Homo sapiens: one gene and its partners. The protein of the gene in region 2 purifies or fractionates together with the protein of the main gene of each other region. This does not show direct contact. Each region holds a gene or a part of one and is shown on either strand. Other genes may lie near its edges. The genes, in order: SPPL2B, ATRN, STAM2 and STAM.

Region 1 (3,569 bases), on a different chromosome or scaffold from region 2:
CAAAGCCTCTCCAAAGAAAAGCCTGGACTACCGTCTCTCGCCCCTGGGCCTGGTCCCCGGCTTCTCCTGAACCTTCTGAAATGCCCATCAGAATGGGGAGACCTTTGGGGTGGGGGTGCTGGCCCCAGGAGACTTCTCCCTGGGGCCTGGTCTCAGGCCATGGTCCCATCTGTGGGACCCATGAGCCCAGCTCGGCACTGGAACCACAGCTCGACCCAATGCATCACACCAGTGCGGCAGGGACGGGTGTGGTTTAACCTCCACAAAAACATGACGTAGGACCCCATGCGCGGCCAGCACCGCTGAGAAGCGCGGCATCTCCCCCAGAGGGAGATCAGCTATGGGAGGAGCTGCACCCATGCCCAACAGCCTGAGGATCGCCCTATGGCGCAGGGCTGCTCCCTGGGCGGTCATGGACTCCAAGAGGCGCTGCCCGGAGGGGCGGGGGCAGCTCTCGGGCGCAATGCGCCTGAGTCCCGGGAACCCAGGAAGTCACCTGAGCGGCACACTGGAAGGGGGGGTCCCACCCACTCCTGTTCACAAAAAATCACAAGAGCAGAACCGACGTGGCGTAAGCCCTCCCTGCATCTCACGTTTAACCCTTGCCAACCACCCCCTGCCTTGCCAAGGGGGACAGGGGACAGGGCTTCCACAGCCAGGGCAGGCCTGCTCCCCTCGTCCAGGGCCCTGCGGCCCCACCCCCAGTCAGGCGCCTCGCTCTCGGCAGGAGAGGCGATGGATGCCCGATGCCCACGCAGGTGGGGCACTACTATTTGGGAGAAGCAACTTTAGAAAGGACATGGCACCCCCGAGTCCCAGCCGGCACCCCCGCGTCCCACCCGGCACCCCTGGGCCCCACCCGGCACCCCCGCGTCCCACCCGGCACCCCCGGGCCCCACCTGGCACCCCCGCATCCCACCCGGCACAGGAGCTGCACGCACGTCCTTCCACCGGGGCCTCACGCGCATGACACCCAAAGCAGAAGGTACCAGGACCCTGAGCCCCGTCGCGGCCGCAGGGCTGGCTGTGGCTGGAGGTCTCACTCAACTTTAACTCTAGTTAGGGCTCACTAGGCGAGTATTTCTCACAGTCAGAGCAAACTGGTATTCACCGCAAAGCCGCTGCCCGTCCAGAACACGCCCAGCTCCCGGCGCCAGAGCGCCACAGCGCAGCTCGTCACCAGCGTGCAGGGCACCAGGTAGAGGAGAGCGGGCTGGCCACGCTGCATCAGGGCCAGTGCCACGAATGTCACAAGGAGGCCAACGCCATAGGCTGTGGGGACAGAGGAGGCATCACCTCAGCCAGGCAGGCCAGGGCCACCACCCATTTCCCTGGGAAGAACGTGAGCGGGCTGGGGTTGGTGGAGGGCAGGGGTGTGCGAGGACGGGAGAGGTACAGTGGGGGTTCAGCCGGCAGGGCCACAGGCTCCCCAAAGTACATGGATCCTTCCGGCACCTCCTGGGCCACAATCCCACCCTGACCCTACCGGAGCCAGGGTCACCGAGGACATGGAAGGGCCAGGGCAAGGAGAGGGACAGGGAGGGGCAGGGTCCGGGCAGCTGCAGGACAGCGGGAGGCAGACGTGATAGCGGAGGGGGCTGCGAGACGTGTCTGGGATGCAGTTTCTATGAACCTCTGAGAAAATCAGCCGAAGGTGACACATGTGCCTGACCAGAAAACCCTTGAACACTGAGCTGTGGGCATATAAACTATGTTCTCAGGAGACACCCAGTGAAATGTTTGGGGTCAAAGGGCACGGTGTCCACCCACCGGGGCCGTGCCCCCAGTCCCCTGAGAACGCAGCCTGTGATTTACATACGTGTGCATGTAAATACACAAACGCACACATGGCCACCCTTGGCACCCGCAGGGGAGGGCTGCCAGGACCCCCTTGCTCATGTCCCTGACGTAAACTGGTGCAGTGTCTGCCTAGAACCCACCCGCGTCCTGCCAAACCATAAATCACCATAGGTTCCTACAAACGCAAACGTGATGTCGCCGCAGGCAATGGCTGTCGCATGGCATTGCTTCGGGAAAACTGGCCCAAAAAATCTGCATGTGTTCAGTACAGATAAGAACACAAATCTTTTCCCCAAATATTTTCAACCTACAGCTAGTGAAATCCACAGCTGCAGGAACCCATGGCTAGTGAGGGCCAACTGCAGTACACGGGGGAGCGTGAGTGTGTGTGTGGAGAGAGAGAGAATGGAATCAAGCGAATGAAAGCGTGAGTGTGTGTGGAGAGAGAGAACGGAATCAAGCGAATGAGAGCGCGAGTGTGTGTGTGGAGAGAGAACGGAATCAAGCGAATGAGAACGCGAGTGTGTGTGGAGAGAGAGAACGGAATCAAGCGAATGAGAGCACGTGAGTGTGTGTGTGGAGAGAGAACGGAGTCAAGCGAATGACAGCGCGTGAGTGTGTGGAGAGAGAGAACGGAATCAAGCGAATAAGAGCGCAAGTGTGTGTGTGGAGAGAGAACGGAATCAAGCCAATGAGAGCACGAGTGTGTGTGGAGAGAGAACGGAATCAAGCGAATGAGAGCGCGTGAGTGTGTGTGGAGAGAGAGAACGGAATCAAGCAAATGAGAGCGCGAGTGTGTGTGGAGAGAGAGAACAGAGTCAAGCGAATGAGAGCGCGTGAGTGTGTGGAGAGAGAGAACGGAATCAAGCGAATGAGAGCGAGTGTGTGTCGAGGGAGAGAACGGAATCAAGCAAATGAGAGCGCGTGAGTGTGTGTAGAGAGAGAACAGAATCAAGCAAATGAGAGCATGTGAGTGTGTGTGGAGAGAGAGAATGGAATCAAGCGAATGAGGGCGCGAGTGTGTGTGGAGAGAGAGAACGGAATCAAGCGAATGAGAGCGTGAGTGTGTGTGGAGAGAGAGAACAGAGTCAAGCGAATGAGAGCGCGTGAGTGTGTGTGGAGAGAGAACGGAATCAAGCAAATGAGAGCGCATGTGTGTGGAGAGAGAGAACGGAATCAAGCGAATGAGAACACGAGTGTGTGTGGAGAGAGAACGGAATCAGGCGAATGAGAACACGAGTGTGTGTGGAGAGAGAGAACGGAATCAAGCGAATGAGAGCGCGTGTGTGTGGAGAGAGAGAACGGAATCAAGCGAATGAGAACACGAGTGTGTGTGGAGAGAGAGAACGGAATCAGGCGAATGAGAACACGAGTGTGTGTGGAGAGAGAGAACGGAATCAGGCGAATGAGAACACGAGTGTGTGTGGAGAGAGAGAACGGAATCAAGCGAATGAGAGCGCGTGTGTGTGGAGAGAGAGAACGGAATCAAGCGAATGAGAACACGAGTGTGTGTGGAGAGAGAGAACGGAATCAGGCGAATGAGAACACGAGTGTGTGTGGAGAGAGAGAACGGAATCAAGCGAATGAGAGCGCGTGTGTGTGGAGAGAGAACGGAATCAAGCGAATGAGAACACGAGTGTGTGTGGAGAGAGAGAACGGAATCAGGCGAATGAGAACACGAGTGTGTGTGGAGAGAGAGAACGGAATCAAGCGAATGACAGCGCGTGAGTGTGTGTGGAGGGAGAGAATGGAATCAAGCGAATGAGAAC
Region 2 (3,569 bases):
CAGAGGTAAAACAGGTATGAAATAATCTACTGATGTCACCAGATTATGTACACATATACATGTTACAATTCATCCCCCATATAATTATTCATAGATCTTATATATACAAAGTATTAAAAATTTTAAGAGGAAGAGACTCTGACAGCACAAACCCACAGTCCCTCAGGCTGCGTTCACCAGCACTCCCCTTCTTGCCAAGCACGTCACACATATCCACAGCCTTCCACATGCAAGCTGCAGTCATGCCCTTGGTAGAAAGGTGGATAACCAGAAACTTAAGTTTTGAGGATTTTAACTCACCATGCTCTGAGATGACTGCATTATTCGCAGCTGCTTAAGGACAAATTCTACCTTCTTCTGGGTTGTAAGAGAAGCCAAAAGGGCATTGTGGTTCCTACAGAACAATTTAGCATTGTCATAATTCTCCTTGGCAGTAGTAATTTTCAAACATGAGTTTCCAACCAAATGCCAGCCAATGCCACAGATATTTTCTTTCATTAAGGGGAAAAGAGAAAGAAAAGAATTTTAGAAATCAGACAAAACTACTGTATTATGAGTTCAAATTACTGAATACCGAAATGGCCTTTCTAATTTAAATTCTAGGTACTTCATTAGGATGTGGGAGCCTCTGACACATTATTAAGGACCAAATGCAGAATACAAGAATTTTAAAATGTTTACTGGTGATATCTCCCGGATCCTAAAAAGCATATTCTGAGGTCACTTATCCTATGTCTTAGATGAAAACACCAGTTTGGTGCCAATATTAGACTGGTACACTTCCTTCTGAAGAACAATTAGAAAACTAAAATCCTAAGTGAAGAGCAGACAAATGAATATGCATATTGGAGGGCTGGGGTAAAAACTGCAAGAATGGAAATGAATCAAGGAATTAACAAATCTATAGTCTCCAAAAGCTGCACTGTTTTCATATCATCAGGTGGAAGGTACAATCAAGTGTACAAAGCATCCCAAAAGCAAGGTGAGAAGGTCCTTCTTGAGAAACAACCCAAGTGATATGGCTATAGCATACAAGACAAGCTTGTAATCTGCTACCTGTGATCATCCTGAACCCACACAAGGTACTGCACAGAAGCTATGAATGCTTCCTGGAAGACAATGAAAGAACAAAGCAACTTCACCAGAACCAAAGTACTTTGGAGACATCAACAATGTTCATTAACAGTAACAGTCACTGAGATAAAAGAAAGGTACCATGGGAAAGAGATCATTTAAGAACAGACAAAGACTTGCTCCTCACAGTGTAGCAGTCGACTAGATAAAATGCACACTCTAGGCCCCACCCCACACTTGCACCAGAATATGCCTTTCGCAAGATTCCCAGGTCTTTTCCTGTACCTTAAAATTTGAGACACACTGAGATATAGAAAAGAGTCCCACTCTGCAAGCTGAATCAAAAACTTCCAAGGGACATTCAAAAAGGGCCTGGTCCAAACCAACTTCCCTGAACAAGCTCAGATGTTGTGCACAGACAAGGAAGTTCCCCTTTCTGGACCACCCTGGTCCAAATATATCACATGGCTGGCTGGTCTCAGGCCCTGAGTTCATCATCCTGAACCTCAGAAGCAGGATATATTGAGGTTTTCAGGGCTGGAGATCACCCCTAAAAGGTGCTGCTGACAGAAGTATCTATCCTCTCCTTCTCAGAGAAGGCCCATTAGCAGGTGCCAACAATTAAATCCCAGTGGTTAATAAGAAGTACTCTCCATAAAGTGCTCAGCAGACTGACTGCTGAGACATCATGGTCTAGTCCCAGGTTATCAAAGGTGGATGGGAAAGAGACAAGGAGCAGGCTCAGTGATACAGAACCAAGCTGTCACTCAATTCTACAGAGCAGCAAAGGATGTTTCACTTTATTTCAAAGGACAGTAGGAACAAATACTTAAGAACTGTATTTTAGTTAAAAACAAAAAAGCCCATAATACTCGTGTGGGGGATGAATGGACAGAATTAGCTCTTCCCCTCTGCTAGGTTCAACTTAGGCTGCACAGTGTTGGGGGAAGCAGGCTGAAGTAATGGACCCACACACACCAAGATGACCCTGCAAGGCCTACCGGGCAGGGCAATGCACTCCTGATTCCGGGGCTCCCACTGGCAGTTCTGGTCCAGGGCACAGCTCCTGCAGCTGGTCTTCTTGTTACAGTAGTACATGGGGTTATCCTTGGGGCAATTCTCATACCTAAAAATGGAGATCTAGAACACAGTGGACAAAAGCTTTTCTTTTGTATCCACAGAGAGAACTTATGGTGAGGACCAACAGGATATTATAGACAACAAAATCTAATTGAGGAAGCAAACTGCAAATAAATAGATAGACAGATAGATAGATAGATAGATAGATAGATAGATAGATAGACAGACAGACAGACAGATAGATAGATAAGTTGCAGTAGCTCTGCAGTGGGGAACACTGCAATGGAATGTTCTGCTCAAGGACATGCTTTTAACTGGCAAGGAAGCAGCCCACTCTTTTAAACACCATGCCTCAACCTGCTCATCTGTAAAATGGGAATGTTGAACTTGGTGCTTTTCAAATGCTCACTTCAAAAGTCTGAAAGTTTTCTATTTTATGAACTGTATGAGACTGACAAAAAAAAAAGTCTTGTAAGCTGTCAAAAACTATAAAAGCCTGGGTCATCTTATAACTTAAATTTAAAAATCTATATATGATGAGCAGTGAGATTATGCCAAACCAAGATATAAAACAAGGAGATTTTGCAAAGTCTGTCATTTCCACAGTTCAATATGGGCCGCTGTACACCTGACTCACTCTCAAACCCTAACTTTATCAAAACCTGGCACTGGTAAAGTGAGGTCACTATCAGATGCCTCAAACCAAGGATCCAGTGCTTAGTCACAGCCATGCCCAGGGACAACAGTCCTACCTTCTTCTAAAACACAATACACAAATTCCCAGGGCTAGTAGGACCCTTGAAATATACAGAACATCTCTTCCTAAAGGAAAACCTCAGGGATAATAAAATCCAAATAGAAACCCATTTGAAAAGTAACTCTGGGCCATTATTTATACCATATACACTATAAAAGCTAAACCTATGACAAATTGGGATTTTTCTGAAATCTTTAAGAAACAGCCTCTGACCTGGCCTTCTGAGCAGCTGTGGTTCCTGGGGACACAATGGTCATTGCACCAGTGGCAGTCATTGGTGTTGGCTGTGCAGCTGTAACAATCTGTGTGCTGGTCACATCTGTCATGGTCAAGAGCTGCAAAGAAAACAAAATCTCATGAACTGGGACAACTTCAATTGAGCAAAATCTGAGACCGAAGTTAAAAAAAAAATCGTAACAATGGTTAAGAAGTAAAATGAAGAATGAAACTGGCAGGAAAATATATTTGGTATGTTCTGGTTAAAATAATATTTAGAAATAGACAATCTAAAGAAACACTGTTTTGTACCCCAAAGAAAGAAGTACACAGAAAGTGAAAACAAGGATAGGTTAATTTAACAACTGTAAGATATAATGAAAGTAAATTCTGGCTCTTTGAATACTTTTCTTTCCAAGAAAAAAAAAATCAACTAGTAATA
Region 3 (3,569 bases), on a different chromosome or scaffold from region 2:
TGGAAGGACTTTTCCCTAATATTATAAAGTCATATTGTCACCAGTAGAGGATTGTGACTGCAAGTTGTCCATGTTCTTAGCATTTTGAACAAAGAATTGGACAAAATGCCCAGCAAAGCAAAGAAAGATGGAAGCAACAAAAGAACAAAAGCAGGGTTTTATTGAAAATGAAAGTACACCCCACAGTGTGGGAGTGGGCCTGAGCAGCAGCTCAAGGGCCAGGATACAGAATCTTCTTGGGTCCAAGTACCCCCTAGAAGTTTCCCATTGGCCTTTTCGTGCTCACCTCATGTAAATGAAGTGGAAGCTCACAATCAGTCTGATTGGTTGCAGAAAGCAGCCAACCAGAGGCTGAAATGAAGTTACAAAGGTAACACTGCTGTGCAAACATCTGATTGGTTGCAAAAAGCAACCAATCAGAGGCTAGGGTGAAGTTACAAAGTTATATTTCTTTGCAAATGAAGACTCCGCCCACAGTCAGTCTGATTGGTTGTGGACAGCAACCATTCAGAGGCTGAAGTTACAAAGTTGCAAATGGAGACTGGACCTGTAATCAGTCTGATTTTTTTCGGACACCCAATTTCCCATCTGCTGCACAGAAAACGTGGGGGGTTTGCAAAGGAAGTAGCCTCTGGTCCTTTTGTTACTTAGGTGTGGAAAGTTAGGGTTGGTTTTCCTTTCAATTTAGTTATAAGAAGTCAGCTTGAAAATCAGCCTTAGATTCCCTGCCTCCAGACCCTATTCTCCTGCCTCAATATCAGCCTAGCTATTACAAGGATTAAGCAGTTCTTCCTCTTAGTTTCCCTTTGTGAATATTCTTTCATTAAATATAAAAAAGCCTTTTAATATATTAATAGAAATTGTGCTAAATTAAAAAAATAATTTATATTACTAAATACATGCTAAAAACTAGAAGAGTATTATAATACTTTTCTTCTACATCAGGAAGCATTCAGAATTGTCTGAATTGAATGTTAAAGTCCTGGAAGCTCTGGAACTATATAACAAATTGGTGAATGAAGCACCAGTGTACTCAGTCTATTCAAAGCTCCACCCTCCAGCACATTACCCACCTGCATCATCTGGGGTTCCAATGCAGGTGAGCATGTTTTTTGAGAACATTTTCTAAATTATAAACAACTTTTAAAAGTAAAAGAAAATGTTTTATAGCATAGTATTAAGATTTCTTTTGTCTGTGAATAAAATTATAAAATTTATCTTTGATTGTTTCAGTAAATATTGGCTAAACAATTAACATTCACCAGAGCAAATTAGACAGATACTGATATTTCACAAATACATTTTAGTTCAGTTTTAACATGGATGAAAAGACCATTAAATATGTGAGGGTAGTTCTGGTTCTTCATATGCTTTTGTAAGTATAAAGCATAAATCTTTTATGTAAACATAAATCCTTTTTGTAAATATGGAGTATAAATCTTTTGATTTAGGACAATACCTGACATATCAGAAGTTCCCCAGGTGAGGTACTAACGCTTTCCTGCTGCTCAACAAGATTTAACATTTCTTTACAAATTTCCATAAAGATTTATTTGACTTACATGATTATTAACAGGCACAATGAACTTCTAGAGTATGCTTTATACTTCCTTTACTTAGCTGCATGACTTACATTGTTAAAAATCTGTGCATAGCAAAGATATGATACATGTCTAGGAGGTACAGACTCCGTAAGCCATCCATGAACATCCATAAGCCATCTTTTTCCAGTACTTTTCACCTTTTTTGTGTGCTTGCCATGTGAAGCGAATACTTACATTTGTCAGTATCCCCATTCGGAAGCGTTTTTTGAAATTTCAGCCAATTAGCCAATTGAATTCAGAATGAGCTTGGATGAGCAAAATTCATGTTAATTTATGAAAACTGGTATGTAAAGGTGCATGTGAAGGAGACACCAAGGAGAAAGGGTAGAATGTGGGTGCATAATTTAGATGACTTGACACAACATAATTGTTAAGTAAAAAAAGAATAGTCACTATGGTAACTGTCACGTCAGACAAGATACATTTATCAAATATGCCATGCCTTGATCTTTTTGAAAATTAGGAGGGTAGGAAAGATTTTTCTGGCTGCAAAAGACCTTTGGGATTTATTCAGTTTGCTTCTGTTTTCAGAGTTGTTCGCTGCTGCTGTGAAAGTGGAACAAAACAGCAGTGTCTGCATCATTGTATGATAAAACTTTATGTTTGCTTTTTTGTGTGTCTGTAAAGGGTTATTTGCCATTCTGTGTCAGGTTTTGGTGTTTAGTTGCATTCTACTTACTGCGTTTTGCCAAGCACAACTCATGTCTCTAAAAAGTTAACTTTCTGTTTGATTCCTCACGTAATCTGTACCTACACTGTTCACTCAAGAGCATTTGAAATATTCAAAAGTTTCTATTCTAATTTGACAAAAATATATCTCTACTAGAAGCAGTTGGGGTAACACATTAGTTATATTGTGTAGGCTACTCAGGAACCCTAAACTGCAGAAGACGCTGATTCTCACAGTCTCAGCCTATTGTCAGTAGATTGTTACATGTCTACTAAGGAGGTAATGTGATTGTACTTAATATAGCTTATTTGGCATTTCTAGCATTCTAAATTTTCAGATGAATGGTATTTACTTTAAAAATAGCTTAATTTAAAACTGGATTGATGATCATTATGGTATGATATGATATTAAATGTATGCATTGTTTTGATGCTATATTTAGTAGACAGGTGGTAGACCCTGTCCTTAAGGAGCTGTTGTCCTGAAAATAAGTAGGGCACATATAAATGTCCAAAGAGACCTAAACCATTTTTGCTGTTTCCTGAGGATACATGTCTTTTGCCCATAACTCTTCTTTACTTTTGTCCTGTTTGTCTTAAAGGTAGAGAATAAGGTAGACATTGCCAGGGAAGCCCTGGCACCCTTATACCATTTCTTTTTCAGCTTTTTCTCTCAAGTTTCTTTCTTAGGAAGGAGTTGGATGAGTCATCCAGGGATGAGGGTAAAGAAGGTTATCATTCTTATAGTGACTTTAAGTGATGGTGGGCTTCCCTTCAAGGGAGTGTATAGTTTTCTGTGGCTCTACAGCAAGACATCTTTACTGAGTAATAGGCAACCTGGATAGATTGCAATCCACTACTTAAAAGTACACCACCTGTCTTTCTCCCAGCTCTCTGTAAAAATAAAAGAACAGCCAAACAAATCAAATTTCCATAGATTTGGCACTGTGATTTGACAGCTCTCCACTTTTAGTTCTAAGATGGATAGATTGGTAGAATCAGATTGCTTCCCAAAGAAGTATAGTTTCTTTCCTTTAAGTCTTTTAACATTTTAAATATATTATTAGGCACATGTTTGGGAGATGAGTGAATCAACTTTTTCTTTCTGATTAATAGACATATCCAGTTCAATCACATGGTGGAAACTATATGGGTCAGAGCATTCACCAAGTAACTGTTGCCCAAAGCTATAGCCTAGGACCCGATCAAATTGGTCCACTGAGATCTCTGCCTCCAAATGTGAATTCCTCAGTGACAGCACAGCCTGCTCAAACTTCATATTTAAGGTAAGTTTTG
Region 4 (3,569 bases), on a different chromosome or scaffold from region 2:
ACATAGTCAAACAGAGGACTAGCAGGGGAAAAGTGGCAGTTCCGGCTAATACTAAAATAGCTGCAGGGTCCTATTAAGTCAGGAACCCTAGTGTCTTCTCAACAATTCCTACCTTCTAGCCCCTTTGTATCTAGTTGTAAAGCAACATGCTACTCTAAGAACAGCTGTTTATTTTCCAGAAGGGTATTCATTTCCACCAGATTTCAACTTAAAAAAAAATCCTGCAAGAGTGCAAGCTACACTTAACACTTTTTTCTAAGATACAGAACCCACTAGGGAATGCCCTGTTTTCTGACATGTGGGCCTTGCCATCATCCCCCTTAAGGTCACTTCGGGATACTAGATCTGACAACCGAATAATGCTTGAAAATCCCCAAGCATCTCTAACACGTAACTCTTTGAGGATGAGTAGTGCAAGAGAGGGCAGTGCAGGAGCATTCCTGGGCAATCCTAACACTGCTGGAAAGGTTTCTAGAAGTTGTGCCTGTGCTACCTAGAAACTTCTGTTGCCAGCTAGAATGTCGTAACTTCTAGAATACACGTTGGTAAACTCTTAAAAGCCTATCCTTTATTTGCTTCAAGGAAAAGATTTCAGCTCAGAGTCCCATTAAAGCAGAAAAAACACACAATAATCATTTAACTACATGACAGACAGCACTGTAAGTAAATGGCAAAGTAAATGGGCCTCTGTCATCACATATTCAGCCATCTGCCTCCTGAGAAACAAGGGTGCTTACCTTCTTATTATCTTCTTGTTTCAAATGGGGTACCTTGATATAATATAAACTAAATTCCAAAACAGGGCAAAAATAAGAAAATATTTGTCTTAAAGAGACAGCTCAGAACTATATATTTTAAAATAACGGAATTTAGATTTTATACAAAATGTGTGGAAAAATGACAAATTATAGTCACTAAACATAAATTTCATTAAAGACATTATCAAATATCATAGATGCAAATAAAAACAACAATAAAAACTTATGGTTAGAGTAGTATTAAAAATATAAGGCTGAAACCAGATTACATGAGTTGAGCGAGTCGGGAGCAGAGGACCAGCTTGCTGGCTGGTACTGGAATACCACAGAGGCTCCACCACTCATTAGCACAAATGGGGCGGCCGCATGACGCTGACCACAGATATTTATTAGCCAGATTTTATAGTTATAGATAACTGGGGGCACTTAAACAGCTGTAACAGCACTAACTCCAAACAAGAATCAACAGTAAAATTACTTTGGGTAAGCGGCCTGAGTCTGCTGACTAGGAAGGGCTGGGTTTGCGGATGGTGGGACCACTGCCTGGCTGAGAGAAGACAGCTGCTCCGGGGGAAGACTGTAGCTCTGGAGGTGGCTCATCTGCGCGTTCCCTGCAACCAGGTAGGCACCACTTGGAGGAGGCCCTGCATACACCTGCGATGGTTAAAGAGAAATCATATTCAATTCTAAAATTTTAATAAGCATACTGAACTTTCTCTGTAGAGGTATTCAGTTACAAAAACAAGAAAAATCACCACTCTGGAATCCTTTTTTCAAAGTTATTTCTGTCAACGGGCATTTTGAAAAACGCTTTTCAATGAAATAGGCTGTTGATGGTTTTCATTTTTAGTTAAACATATGCTAAACTCATGTTATCTCCATACTGAAGCATTAAAGAAACTTATCCTGAAACTTTATACTAATCTCCCTTTACATTAAATATATTTTAATATTCTGCATGTTGGTATTTTTTAAGGAATCCCAAAGGATATTTAGAAAGTGTATTTGAACTCATTGTTTTGTAGCCATAGACTGCAATGGATACAAGTCACATTTCCTAAACTGCAGTTTATTGAACAATAGAGCAAGCTAACTTTCTAAAGCAGGGGTCAGCAAACTTTTTTGTAAAGGGCCTGACGTAAATATTTTAAGTTTTGTGGACCATGTAGTCTCTGACACAACTACTCGGCTCTGTCAGTAAATCAGAGTGGCTGTGTTCTGATAAAAGTTTATTTAAAGCCGCCAGGCATGGTGGCTCATGCCTGTAATCCCAGCACTTTGGGAGGCCGAGGCAGGCAGATCACGAGGTCAGGAGATCGAGACCATCCTGGCTAACACAGTGAAACCCCGTCTCTACTAAAAATACAAAAAATTAGCCAGGCGTGGTGGCGGGCGCCTGCAGTCCCAGCTACTCGGGAGGCTGAGGCAGGAGAATGGCCTGAACCCAGGAGGCGGAGCTGGCAGCGAGCTGAGATCGCGCCACTGCACTCCAGCCTGGGCGACAAAGCAAGACTCCGTCTCAAAAAAAAGTTTATTAAAAAAAAAAAAAACAGGCAACAGGCTGGATTTGTCTACTTCTGTATTTCAAAATGCATTTTTTTAATCTAAAGAGATTGAAGTCTTAACTACCCAAAGTCTAAAACACATAATGTCCTAATTTTCTGCAGTATTCATTAGATCCTTCCATTTAGCACTTCTGTTAAACGACAGACCCACACAGGGATCCAAAGGGTCTTCATTATAAACACAGCTATACCAGTCCTCCTAACTTTATTTTGTCATTCTTCGAAAATTGAACATGAAGGTTTTTTGCTTCCTTGTCTCAAACTGGTGATCAAGACTCTAAAGCAGGTGCCCTCTAGCCCCAAGTTTCTTGGGCCTAGCTGTTCATCTACAGGGTGCTGGCCCCTCATTCTGCTAAACGTTAATCTGAACACAGTCCGTGCCCACTTTACATGGAAAAAATGGAGTATCTGGCTAGTTTTGTTTTTATTTATTATTATTATTATTATTATTTTTTGAGGTGGAGTCTTGCTCTGTCGCCCAGGCTGGAGTGCAATGGCACGATCTCGGCTCACTGCAACCTCCGCCTCCCGGGTTCATGCCATTCTCCTGCCTCAGCCTCCCAAGTAGCTGGGACTATAGGCACCCACCACCACGCCAGGCTAAATTTTTTGTATTTTGAGCAGAGACAGGGTTTCACCATGTTAGCCAGGATGGTCTCCATCTCCTGACCTCGTGATCCACCCGCCTCGGCCTCCCAACGTGCTGGGATTACAGGTATGAGCCACCGCACCCGGCCAGTATCTGGCTAGTTATTCCCTATAACCTCACCTCACCGTGATGAGTTTGTGAAAAGGGGGTCCTTGAAATAGTTGCTTGGGGTGAAAAGAAAGCAAACGGCTCTACACTGCATTGCATGCATTCTCATGTAAAGCAGGGAAAATTCCAGATTAAAGCAGTTTTTAAATTATGGAAATATATTTTGTTGGTTTGTAATAATAAAAACAGGTTTTTACCTCATTTTTTTTTCACTGCATTTAAGTTTTCCTTTTAAGGATAACTAGAAGTTCATTAGATATTTAAGAGAGTTTTCTTAGCTCTAAAAGCATTTTGTGTTTTTTACGAAACTACTTTATTGAGATATGTCTGACCTGCAAAAGGCTATACATATTGAGTGTACACAACCTGATGAAGAACTAAGGTTCTTAAGTAAATAATTACATACGAAGCTTTAAAAATATGGGCCTCGGCCGGGCGCGATGGCTCACACCTGGAATCCCAGCACTTTGGGAGGCCGAGGCGGGTGGA

The links.
Region 1: the proteins of ATRN (region 2) and SPPL2B purify together in Homo sapiens (co-immunoprecipitation; one large-scale study listed by IntAct). This does not show direct contact.
Region 3: the proteins of ATRN (region 2) and STAM2 fractionate together in Homo sapiens (co-fractionation; one large-scale study listed by BioGRID). This does not show direct contact.
Region 4: the proteins of ATRN (region 2) and STAM fractionate together in Homo sapiens (co-fractionation; one large-scale study listed by BioGRID). This does not show direct contact.

The regions. Positions count from the first base shown.
Region 1 is NC_000019.10:2,349,137-2,352,705, reverse strand, and holds part of SPPL2B (signal peptide peptidase-like 2B isoform 2 precursor), read right to left. Parts: intron 1,273-3,569; coding exon 1,112-1,272; coding exon of another isoform or gene 1,091-1,111; exon of another isoform or gene 1,049-1,090; intron 1-1,048. UniProt on the Homo sapiens protein: Intramembrane-cleaving aspartic protease (I-CLiP) that cleaves type II membrane signal peptides in the hydrophobic plane of the membrane. Functions in ITM2B and TNF processing.
Region 2 is NC_000020.11:3,575,504-3,579,072, reverse strand, and holds part of ATRN (attractin isoform 1 preproprotein), read right to left. Parts: intron 3,247-3,569; coding exon 3,125-3,246; intron 2,215-3,124; coding exon 2,076-2,214; intron 492-2,075; coding exon 301-491; intron 1-300. UniProt on the Homo sapiens protein: Involved in the initial immune cell clustering during inflammatory response and may regulate chemotactic activity of chemokines. May play a role in melanocortin signaling pathways that regulate energy homeostasis and hair color.
Region 3 is NC_000002.12:152,123,756-152,127,324, reverse strand, and holds part of STAM2 (signal transducing adapter molecule 2), read left to right. Parts: intron 1-945; coding exon 946-1,099; intron 1,100-3,389; coding exon 3,390-3,559; intron 3,560-3,569.
Region 4 is NC_000010.11:17,706,619-17,710,187, reverse strand, and holds part of STAM (signal transducing adapter molecule 1), read right to left. Parts: intron 1,413-3,569; coding exon 1,237-1,412; intron 1-1,236. UniProt on the Homo sapiens protein: Involved in intracellular signal transduction mediated by cytokines and growth factors. Upon IL-2 and GM-CSL stimulation, it plays a role in signaling leading to DNA synthesis and MYC induction. May also play a role in T-cell development.